3 linked regions of the Homo sapiens genome follow. The protein of the gene in region 1 purifies or fractionates together with the protein of each later gene. This does not show direct contact. Each region holds a gene or a part of one and is shown in the gene's direction. Other genes may lie near its edges. The genes, in order: MAP3K10, MYO18B and ERC1.

Region 1 (3,651 bases):
TGGCTCCATCCCCCACATCCCAGCCCTTGTTTGGGCCAGGCCCAGAGCTCTCAGGACAACCTGTTAGGATTCCTTGGCCCTGGGATTCCACCTTGATCCTGATTCCACTACCAGCCCCTCCTCGGGGTGCAGGTCCCAGGGTTTCTCTCCCAGCGTTTCACTGAGTGGAATTGGCCAGGAGCTTGGCTTTGAATCCCTTCCCCTCAGCTCCATAGCAGCTGTTTGTCTGCCATCCCCAGAAATTCTGCCTTCCTCTGAGCAGGCTGAGTCCCCAGAGCATGACCACTGACACCTCCATGCCCCACCACTGTCCTTCCTCCTCCCACCCCAGAATGCTGGGACCCAGACCCCCACGGGCGGCCAGATTTCGGTAGCATCTTGAAGCGGCTTGAAGTCATCGAACAGTCAGCCCTGTTCCAGATGCCACTGGAGTCCTTCCACTCGCTGCAGGAAGACTGGAAGCTGGAGATTCAGCACATGTTTGATGACCTTCGGACCAAGGAGAAGGTGAAGGCAGGGGGCAAGGTGGGAAAGATGGAGCAAGACCCCTGAGTTCTGATGCCTTGGGCTGCTCAGAGACTCCTCCCCTGAACCCCAGCCTTTGGGTCCATGCAGGGTCAAGGGAGCCTTTTTTGCATATTAAGAAAAGACAGCCTCCTGTTGGTGGATTAATAAGAAAAAGGCACCCTGTACTGAAGTACTTACAGGTGACACTGCATGATGTCTGGGGTTGGCTTTAAAATACTACAGCAGAAACGAAGAGAGGGCAAGAGGAGAGAAGGACGGGGATACAAGATTCGCAAAGCATAGGTAATTGTTGAAATTGGATGATGGGTACAGGGGGGTGCACTGTTCTCTGCTTTTGTGGATGTTTGAAGTTTTCTAAATTGAAGAGTTAAGAAAGAAAAAGAAAGAAAAAGCACCCCTTTCTTTGAGCTAACACAGTTCCCTGCCCTGGCACCCAGCTTGGCTAGCAAAGCATGAGTCGGGTGGTGAAACCAGTGTACCCCACAGCAAGGTACCCTTGTGTGAGGCACCAACCAGACGCAGCAGCCCTGGGTCCCTCCCCAGGAAGCAGAGCAGCTAAGCCCCTCCCCCCAGCCACCGCCTCTCCTTCCCAGGAGCTTCGGAGCCGTGAGGAGGAGCTGCTGCGGGCGGCACAGGAGCAGCGCTTCCAGGAGGAGCAGCTGCGGCGGCGGGAGCAGGAGCTGGCAGAACGTGAGATGGACATCGTGGAACGGGAGCTGCACCTGCTCATGTGCCAGCTGAGCCAGGAGAAGCCCCGGGTCCGCAAGCGCAAGGGCAACTTCAAGCGCAGCCGCCTGCTCAAGCTGCGGGAAGGCGGCAGCCACATCAGCCTGCCCTCTGGTACCCACCCGTGTCCCCAGAGCGCCCCCCAAGAGGCTGCTGGGAGCAGCCCCGACCTAGGATTTATCTCTTCCTTTTCTTTTTCAACTTGTTTTTATTGCTAAATATATCGCACATAGTCAGTGATCAGCCCAGTGCAGTGGCGAGCACTTGTAGTCCCAGCCTACTCAGGAGGCCAAGGTGGGAGGATCACTTGAGGCCAGAAGTTTGAGACCAGCCTGGGCAACATAGACCCCATATTTACCAAAAAAAAAAAAAATTTTTTTTAATTAGCTGGCCACGTTGGCATGCACTTATAGTCCAAGCTAGTGGGGAGGCTGAGGTGGGAGGATCACTTGAGTCCAGGAGTTCGAGGCTGCAGTGAGCTGTAATTGCACCACTGCACTCCAGTCTGGGCAGCAGAGCAAGACCCTATCTCTAAAGGGAAGAAGAAGAAAAAAAGAAAATGACCAAAAACCTGTACAGCCAAATGAGTTACTCTAGTCACCCCCATGAAAGCAGAGAGAACCTCACAGCCATCCCAAGTGCTTTCTACCTGCCCCTCCAGACAACCTCACACCATCCCCTGAGAGGAACATCTGTCTTGACACTTAGGACAGTCACTTCTGAACTTTCTTTTTCATGTTATCTCTCTTTAAAAATATCTTTTAATCTGGCCAGGTGCAGTGGCTCACGCCTGTAATCCCAGCATTTTGGGAGGCCAAAGTGCGTAGATCACTTGAGGCTAGGAGTTCTAGAGCAGCCTGGCTCTAGAACATGGTGAAATCCCGCCTCTACTAAAACTACAAAATTAGCTGGGTGTGGTGGTGCACACGCCTGTAATCTCAGTTACTTGGGAGGCTGAGGCACAAGCATCGCTTGAACCCGGAAAGCAGAGGTTGCAGTGAGCCGAGATTGTGCCACTGCACTCCAGCCTGGGTGACAGAGTGAGACTCTGTCACAAAATATATAATTAAGATATACATATATATGCTGATATTTGACCATTTTTTTACCTACAAAAACAGAAGTTTCACATGGATCAACCTAATAGTTGGATCTCAAGACTTAATCAGATTCAGATTCAGGTTTGATTTTTTTTTTCCCCACACTGCTTCCCAGGTAATGCATTCAGGAGGGAGGCACGTAGTGTCTACTTGTCTCTTTCTGTGATGTTACAAGCCAGAAAGCAGTGCCTTAAGCAGCAGTGGCCAGTGGAAATATAATACAAGCCACGTGTATAATTTTAAATTTTCTAGTAAGCTACACATAAAAGCAAAAAGAAATAAGAGATGTCAATTTTAATATTTTTTATTAGGCCAGGTGGGGTGGCTCACGTCTGTAATCCCAGCACTTTTTGGGGCTAAGACGGGCAGATCACCTGAGGTCAGGAGTTTGAGACCAGCCTGACCAACATGGAGAAACCCCATCTCTACTAAAACTACAAAATTAGCCGGGCGTGGTGGCGCATGCCTGTAATCCCAGCTACTCAGGAGGCTGAGGCAGGAGAATCGCTTGAACCTGGGAGGCAGAGGTTGCAGTGAGCCGAGATCGCGCCATTGTACTCCAGCCTGGGCGACAAGAGCAAAACTCCATCTCAAAAAATATATATATTTTTTAATTTAGCCCAATATATCCATGCAATCAATACAAAATAATTGTGAGATATTTTACCTTCTTTTTTCACACTAAATCTTTGAAATCCAGATGTATTTTATATTTATGGCACATCTAAATTTGGACAGTAAATTTTCATTAAAAATTTTTTTTTTTCTGAGATGGGGTCTTGCTATATTGCCCAGGGTGGTCTTGAACTCCTGCGCTCAGGCAGCGCTCCCACTTTGGCCTCCCAAAGTGCTGGGATTACAGGTGTGAGCTACTGTACCTGACCCATCAAAAATATTGGATCTGTATTTAGATTTCATAAAAGTTAGAGTTGAAAAAGTACATATACATACCCAAGTTGCTCCAAACATGCTTAAATGTTTCCAATAACCAAATGGAGTACCTGTTTTTTGTTGTTTGTTTTTTTGTTTTTGTTTTTGTTTTTTTTGAGATGGAGCCTCGCTCTGTCACCCAGGCTGGAGTGCAGTGGCATGATCTCGGCTCACTGCAAGCTCTGCCTCCCAGGTTCATGCCATTCTCCTGCCTCAGCCTCCTGAATAGCTGGGACTACAGGCACCCGCCACCACGCCTGGCTCTTTCTTTCTTTTTTTTTTTTTTTTTTTTTTTTGTATTTTTAGTAGAGACAGGGTTTCACCGTGTTAGCCAGGATGGTCTCAATCTCCTGACCTCGTGATCCGC
Region 2 (3,651 bases), on another chromosome or scaffold:
GCTCAGAGACTTACGGGGCTTGGCACCTTTCACACAGTAATAAATGGTAAAGAACCTAGGATTTCTCTAGCCCCCAAGATCAGGCCCATTTTTTTCTCCCACCCTGTCTCTTGGAACCGATGTGCCTGTATCTCCCAAAAGTATTCCCTGTATTTATTTGGTTGATGGTATTCAAAATGATTTTACGCGGCATAAAACTAAATATTTTAAAAATATTTCATCATAATTTCCATGCATATCAGAAAATAAACATATCTTGCACATCAAATCGGCAATATGATGCTTCTTTTAAAATGAATGTACTGTACTTGTGAAAATGTAAGTCGATTTAAAGAAAACATCAAGTAAATCACAGTCCAGGTGATACGTGGTTATATATATAGAAAAACTCGAGGAGATCGAGTGTACGGATGATGTTTGGGAAAAACAGGTGTCCTAGATTTAAGAAAGCAAGAAAGAATAAAATCCACTTTGGAAATAATGTACACAAATTCACTACAGCAGGAGAAATGTGGGTGCCTTCGACCATGAGCGTTAGCTATCTGGAAACACGTTAAGATGGATACTGTGCGTTTAAGGGATGCCAGCTGATTGCAGAGTGTCCTCAACAGGCTCCAGCACTCATGCCACCATGTCTGTTTCCAGGGTCCTCTGCCCTGCGGACCTGTGAGCAGCCCCTCCAGTGTGAGATTTTCCACCAGTTGGGATGGGACCCTGTGCGGTACGACCTCACGGGCTGGCTCCACAGAGCCAAGCCCAACCTCTCGGCCCTGGATGCACCCCAGGTCCTGCACCAGTCAAAAAGGTGAGTTGGGTCAGGGTTGGGGACGGGGATGGAGCATTGGAGGCACTGTGTTTTCCTTCCCACCTAAACTAGGCAGTCACTACAACACAGTGTGGGAGGGCCAGCCCAGGAATCCCATCCCTCCATAATGGAGCAAAGAACCATAACTTGAATTGGAGCAGTGCAGTGTCTCCCTGGGGCCAGAGTGAATCCAGCTGAGGAGAAAAGCTGGCCTCCTGGGGAGGTGGAACAAAAGCTAAAAAGCTGTGACTTCTTATTTTGGCACTTTGCCTTTCATTAAGTATCTGAGAGATGATGTGACTGGAACAACTTTTATGGACATTCAAGAACTAGGGGTTCATAAAACTGAAATGATACGTTTTGTAGCGTTAAAAAAAAGCTCACCATGTTCCCTGGCTGCTCAGCCCAGAGTGCTGGCGTGAGGCCGGCAGCATTCTCTGCTTTTAGTTCAGAGGCTTATTGGAAAATGCTGTGTGTGTGTGTGTGCATGCACACTCCCAAGTTCAATGCTGGAATTCCTCAGGGGTAGAGCTTAGAGACAAGAAGAGAAACTGAGACGACCAGGGAGGTGCTGGTGTCTCAGATGGGCACCAGGATGAGAAAGAACCACTTACTCACTACTCCCTATGTGCCTTGGATCAGCATAAACGCTTTATGAGTATCTTCTGAATCCTTATCACAACACAAGATCCTTAGTCCCATTTTACACATGAGAAAAATTGAGGCCCCGAGCAGTGAAGTGGCTTGCCTTTGCTCACACAGCAGAACAGTGGCACAGCCAGGACCCAACTTGAGTCTAAGAGATGCTTGGAGAATTCCCAGAACATTATGTCAGAGCTGATTGGAAACCCACATCCAGGAGTGGGGCTCGTGAACATCCAGCTCCTGGAGAGAGATTCAGGCCAGGGCTGGGGCAACAGGAGTTGCGAGCACACAGAGGACTGAATGATGACCCAGGTGGCACAGGTTGAGTCTCAGCCCTGCCCTTTGTCACCTGAGTGACCGTGGGCAGTCGCTCTCCCTCATCTCGGTTGTTTCTGCTTCCTGTACCATAAATAAGAGCAGGACGATGCTACAAGACTCAGCGGCTGTAGCCCAGCTTTGGGGACAGGAAGATGTTCAGATTCCGTTTTTCCCTCTTTTAAGCTACATGACCTGGACCTCAGTTTCATAATCTGAGAAATGGGAATGAGGTTCCAAAGCTCCCATGTCTGATCTAAGAAGGCTTTGGTGACGTAAAGTAGCAGATGACCTATTAGAGAGCCCGGTTCGTAGTTGGCTCATGGAAGAGGGTAGGCCACTCTGCTTTACTGGAACAGACACTTGAAAAGCTGGCACCCTTGGCCGGGCGCGGTGGCTCACGCCTGTAATCCTGGCACTTTGGGAGGCCAAGGTGGGCAGATCACGAGGTCAAGAGATCGAGACCATCCTGGCCAACATGGTGAAACCCTGTCTCTACTAAAAACACAAAAATTAGCTGGGCCTGGTGGCGTGTGCCTATAGTCCCAGCTACTCGGGAGGCTGAAGCAGGAGAATCGCTTGAACCCGGGAGGCGGAGGTTGCAGTAAGCCGAGATTGCACCGCTGCACTCCAGCCTGGCGACAGAGCAAGACTCCATCTCAAAAAAACCAACAACAACAACAACAAAAACGAAAAGCTAGCATCCTGGCCACTAACCTCAGAATCTGTCCATGACAGGGATGCTGAGAGAAGGCACTGTCTGCTCAGGTATCAGGCTGGGTATTTATTTGACATTATCTTGCAGCTCCAGAAACTGTGTGCCCAGCCTGAGTCATTCCTTCTTGCATGAAACACATGGCACGTGCCTACTGTGTGCTAGGCCTGGTCTAGGAATAGCAGAGAGGACTTTGACCTCTAAGAGAGTACAGGTGTCGTAGCATTGCTGTAGGTATGTAAGTGACAAGAATATCCATAGGACAGATGCTCTAAGCCTAGGCAGGGAGGGAGCATTTGAAGGTAGAAGACGGGCATCAGGAAGGAGCTGGCATTTGCCATGAAGCAAAGCCTCACCTGGCAGGAGGGGCTGTGAATGAAGGGGAGCAGCTGGGACACATGACTGTAGAGGAGGCTTTAGGAAGCCGAGGAGCAGGAAGCAAGAAGGCTTGTTCCCTTTGCCACCACCCAGGCCAAGGCTTTCCCAAGAACCTCCTAAAGCTCCTCTCTCTTTTCCCTCCTCCCCACCAGAGAGGAGCTGCGGAGTCTATTCCAGGCCCGGGCCAAGCTGCCTCCTGTGTGCCGGGCTGTGGCAGGCCTGGAGGGCACCTCCCAGCAGGCCCTGCAGAGGAGCCGCATGGTGAGGAGGACCTTTGCCAGCAGCCTTGCCGCGGTGAGGAGGAAAGCCCCGTGCTCCCAGATCAAGCTGCAGATGGTGAGTGGGCACCCTGTCTCATGGTGTCCTGGCCTTCACTGCCTCCATCCTCATCTCCTCTGGGCTGAGTCATGTGCCTACATCATCTCTAACCTCCCCAGCAAGGCCAGAGGGGCGAGTGTCACCCCACGCTCCACAGAGGAGGAAATGGGGGCTCCCAGCAGCAATGAAACTTGGCCCTGGTCACACCCCCAGGAAGTGACTGATCCAAATCTGAGGCCTAAGCCTGTGCTGCTTGGTGTTGAGTTGAGAGGCCTGGGGGAGTTCCCAGAAGCTATGAATGCCCTCTTGACTCCAGTGACACATATGAGAGCCAGACTAGCCCTGTCTGCCTTGCTCACCACTAGGTTCCCCTGGGGCAAGGCGGCAGGACCCAGCTGGATGTAAATGTGGTACCTAGACCTGGAATGTGAATCCGTGAATAAATGAGAACATGAGATTGGTCAATGGCCAGGCT
Region 3 (3,651 bases), on another chromosome or scaffold:
TTTATATCTTTAATGTATATGGAATTTATTTTGGTGTACTATGTGAAGACGAGTATACGTTATGTTTCTCAAAGAGCAACAAGTATTTAAACTTCATTTATTGAGTGATTTTTCATTTCCTCACTGTATTAGTCTGTTCTCATGTTGCTAATACAGACATACCCGAGACTAGGTAATTTAAAAAGGAAAGTTTTTTTTTTTTTTTTTTTTTGAGACGGAGTCTCGCTCTTGTCACCCAGGCTGGAGTGCAGTGGCGCGATCTCGGCTCACTGCAATGTCTGCCGCCTGGGTTCAAGCTTCTTATGCCTCAGCCTCCTGAGTGGCTGGGATTACAGGCACCTGCCACCATGCTTGGTTAATTTTTGTACTTTTAGTGAGATTGGGTTTTGCCGTGTTGGTCAGGCTGGTCTCGAACTCTTGATGTCAGGTGATCCACCCGCCTTGGTCTCCCAAATTGCTGGAATTACAGATGTAAGCCACTGCACCCTGCCAGGAAAGAGGTTTAATGGACTCTCAGTTCCACATGGCTGGGGAGACCTCACAATCATGGCAGAAGGCGAATGAGGAGCAAAATTATGTCTTACATGGCGACAGGCAAGAGAACTTGTGCAGGGGAACTCCAATTTATAAAACTATCAGATCCCATGAGACGCACTCACTACCACCAGAACAGTAGAGGGGAAACTGCGCCCATGATTCAGTTAAGTACACCTGGCCCCACCCTTGATACATGAAGATGATTGCAATTCAAGGTGAGATTTGAGTGGGGACACAGCCAAACCATATCACTCACTGTTTGGAAACGTTACTTTTAACATATATTAAATTCCCATATATAATTTAGACCCTGTTCTTGGGCTAGTACTATACAGTTTTCGTTATTATAGTTTTACAAGGCTACAATACTTTGTAAGAAACCTTGCAGGTCAGATGTGGTTTTGTTGTCAGGAATTTTTTCCAGTAATACTTAGTGGACATTATGTAGTATCCAGTAATCACACACATTGTTTTCTTAATGAAATATATGAAGTCACACTATGTGGGATACATATAAACAGTAAGTAAGCTCAGATCAGGTCAAGGTTTGCTGCTAGATGAGTTAAAAGGAAAATCTTATTTTCAGAGGTTTTTGGATTTTTGCAGTACAAATGAAGAATTATGGATTTGTAATTTATGTTGCTGTTGAGGGCTGTCTTCCTTCCTTGTTCATCTATTTTAAATTGTTTGGTTACTCTTGTATCTTTACTCTCCATTTGAATTTTAGAGTCAGCTTGTTGAGTTACTTGAAAAATCCTTCAACACCTGTGAAAGGAAGGGATCTATAGCTGGTTAGCAAAATCCTGTAGAGATTTTTCACTGGGATTGTGCTAAGTAGTTGGGGAAGAACTAAATCTTAGCAGTGTTTGTCTTCTCATCCATGAACACAGATAACTTTGTTTAGGTGTTCTTTCATGTCTTTCAGTAAAATGTTATAGTTTTTTTCCCCCAAAATTCTTGCACATTTCTGTTGATTTACATCAAAGTACTTTTATGGTTTTGTTGCTGTTGTGAATGGGATTTAAAATTTCCTTTAAATTAAAAACTGCATTTTCTAGTTGTTACTACTGATGTATACATTGATACTTATATATTGATATTGAGTTTGACCAGTTTGTTGAGTTCTGTTATTCTAATAACTTGTCAGTTGATTATCTTGGGTTTTCAGTTAGCAAGTCAGATATTCAGACATTGAGTTTAATCTTTTCCTTGTCAATCTTTATACTTCTTGTTTTTTTTTCTTTTTCTTTTTTGTAGACAGGGTCTTGCTATGTATCCCAGGTTGGTCTTGAACTCCTGGCCTCAAGCGATCTTCCTACCTTGGCCTCCCAGAGCGCTGGGATTATAGGCATGAGCCATTGCACTTGGCACTTTTTTTGTTTGTTTTCCAGTTGCATGGTATGTTTTCAGCGTTCAGTTTTGAGACATCTAAAATATCTCTAAAATATTGTTTACTATGAGTACATTATGCTGTAATCACATTCTGAATGCGTGAGTACATACATGGTAGAAGGGCTAGATCTTCTTTAAGTGGGGGTAATGGAAAGTCTCTGAGAAGGGAAATATTTATTATTGGAGGATTTAATGTGTGATCTTTTCATTACAGATATGGTGTAAGATACTTCTTCAAGATTGGACAGCTGGGGACCTTCTTCTGATTAACCTTAAACCAACTTGTAGCCATAGAGACACCTCACAAGGTTCCCATTTTTGTTGTTGTTGTTGTTGATTTTCTGCTCACACCTTTCCTGACCTTGCAACCATGTATGGAAGTGCCCGCTCTGTTGGGAAGGTGGAGCCGAGCAGCCAGAGCCCTGGGCGTTCACCCAGGCTTCCACGTTCCCCTCGCTTGGGTCACCGTCGAACCAACAGTACGGGAGGGAGTTCGGGAAGCAGTGTTGGAGGTGGCAGTGGGAAAACCCTTTCAATGGAAAATATACAATCTTTAAATGCTGCCTATGCCACCTCTGGCCCTATGTATCTAAGTGACCATGAAAATGTGGGTTCAGAAACACCTAAAAGCACCATGACACTTGGCCGTTCTGGGGGACGTCTGCCTTACGGTGTTCGGATGACTGCTATGGGTAGTAGCCCCAATATAGCTAGCAGTGGGGTTGCTAGTGACACCATAGCATTTGGAGAGCATCACCTCCCTCCTGTGAGTATGGCATCCACTGTACCTCACTCCCTTCGTCAGGCGAGAGATAACACAATCATGGATCTGCAGACACAGCTGAAGGAAGTATTAAGAGAAAATGATCTCTTGCGGAAGGATGTGGAAGTAAAGGAGAGCAAATTGAGTTCTTCAATGAATAGCATCAAGACCTTCTGGAGCCCAGAGCTGAAGAAGGAACGAGCCCTGAGAAAAGATGAAGCTTCCAAAATCACCATTTGGAAGGAACAGTACAGAGTTGTACAGGAGGAAAACCAGGTAAGTTCTACGTGTGTTTACCTTTATTGGCTGAATTCATGTATATAAATGAAATAGCCTTTTTTTCCCCTTTCCTAGATTTTTCCCTTCGTAGTATATGTATCTTCCTTTTTCCTATTGATTTTACTGTTTTGTGTCCTCCATTTCTCAGCCCTTTCCAAATTTGGTCCTGTACCCTGTTTTCTTCTAGCTGCCCATGTCTCCTTGCTCCCATTCTTGCTTGGTTCTTTTCTCTGGTTTCTCTTTCTCTTCGTGTCTTTCCTTTCAGCATATGTTATCTTTTTTTTTTTTTTCCAATTCTTCTGAGAGTATAATTTTGCCACACTCTCTAATATCTATTACCAAATGTATTTTAGAGTAGGTAACTTAAATGTAAGGTATACCATTAAGATTTGTCATAATGTCAAAAAGTCATTCTTAAAAACAAAACAAAATGACTATCACAGGATAAGTCAGTGTTGTCAGCTGAGAACAGAAATTACTTTTAAAAAGTTAATGTTGGCCGGGTGCAATGGCTCACACCTGTAATCCCAGCACTTGGGAGGCCGAGGTGGGCGGATCATTGAGGTCAGGAGTTCGAGACCAGCCTGGCGACGTGGTGAAACCCTGACTCTACTAAAAATACAAAAATTAGCCAGGTGTGATGGCGTGTGCCTGTAATCCCAGCTTCTAAGGAGGCTGAG

Evidence for each region.
Region 2: the proteins of MAP3K10 (region 1) and MYO18B purify together in Homo sapiens (affinity purification with mass spectrometry; one large-scale study listed by BioGRID and IntAct). This does not show direct contact.
Region 3: the proteins of MAP3K10 (region 1) and ERC1 purify together in Homo sapiens (affinity purification with mass spectrometry; one large-scale study listed by BioGRID and IntAct). This does not show direct contact.

Annotation. Positions count from the first base shown.
Region 1 is NC_000019.10:40,204,790-40,208,440, forward strand, and holds part of MAP3K10 (mitogen-activated protein kinase kinase kinase 10), read left to right. Parts: intron 1-331; coding exon 332-507; intron 508-1,121; coding exon 1,122-1,368; intron 1,369-3,651. UniProt on the Homo sapiens protein: Activates the JUN N-terminal pathway.
Region 2 is NC_000022.11:25,843,090-25,846,740, forward strand, and holds part of MYO18B (unconventional myosin-XVIIIb), read left to right. Parts: intron 1-645; coding exon 646-805; intron 806-3,010; coding exon 3,011-3,194; intron 3,195-3,651. UniProt on the Homo sapiens protein: May be involved in intracellular trafficking of the muscle cell when in the cytoplasm, whereas entering the nucleus, may be involved in the regulation of muscle specific genes.
Region 3 is NC_000012.12:1,025,605-1,029,255, forward strand, and holds part of ERC1 (ELKS/Rab6-interacting/CAST family member 1), read left to right. Parts: intron 1-2,143; 5' UTR 2,144-2,299; coding exon 2,300-2,968; intron 2,969-3,651. UniProt on the Homo sapiens protein: Regulatory subunit of the IKK complex. Probably recruits IkappaBalpha/NFKBIA to the complex. May be involved in the organization of the cytomatrix at the nerve terminals active zone (CAZ) which regulates neurotransmitter release.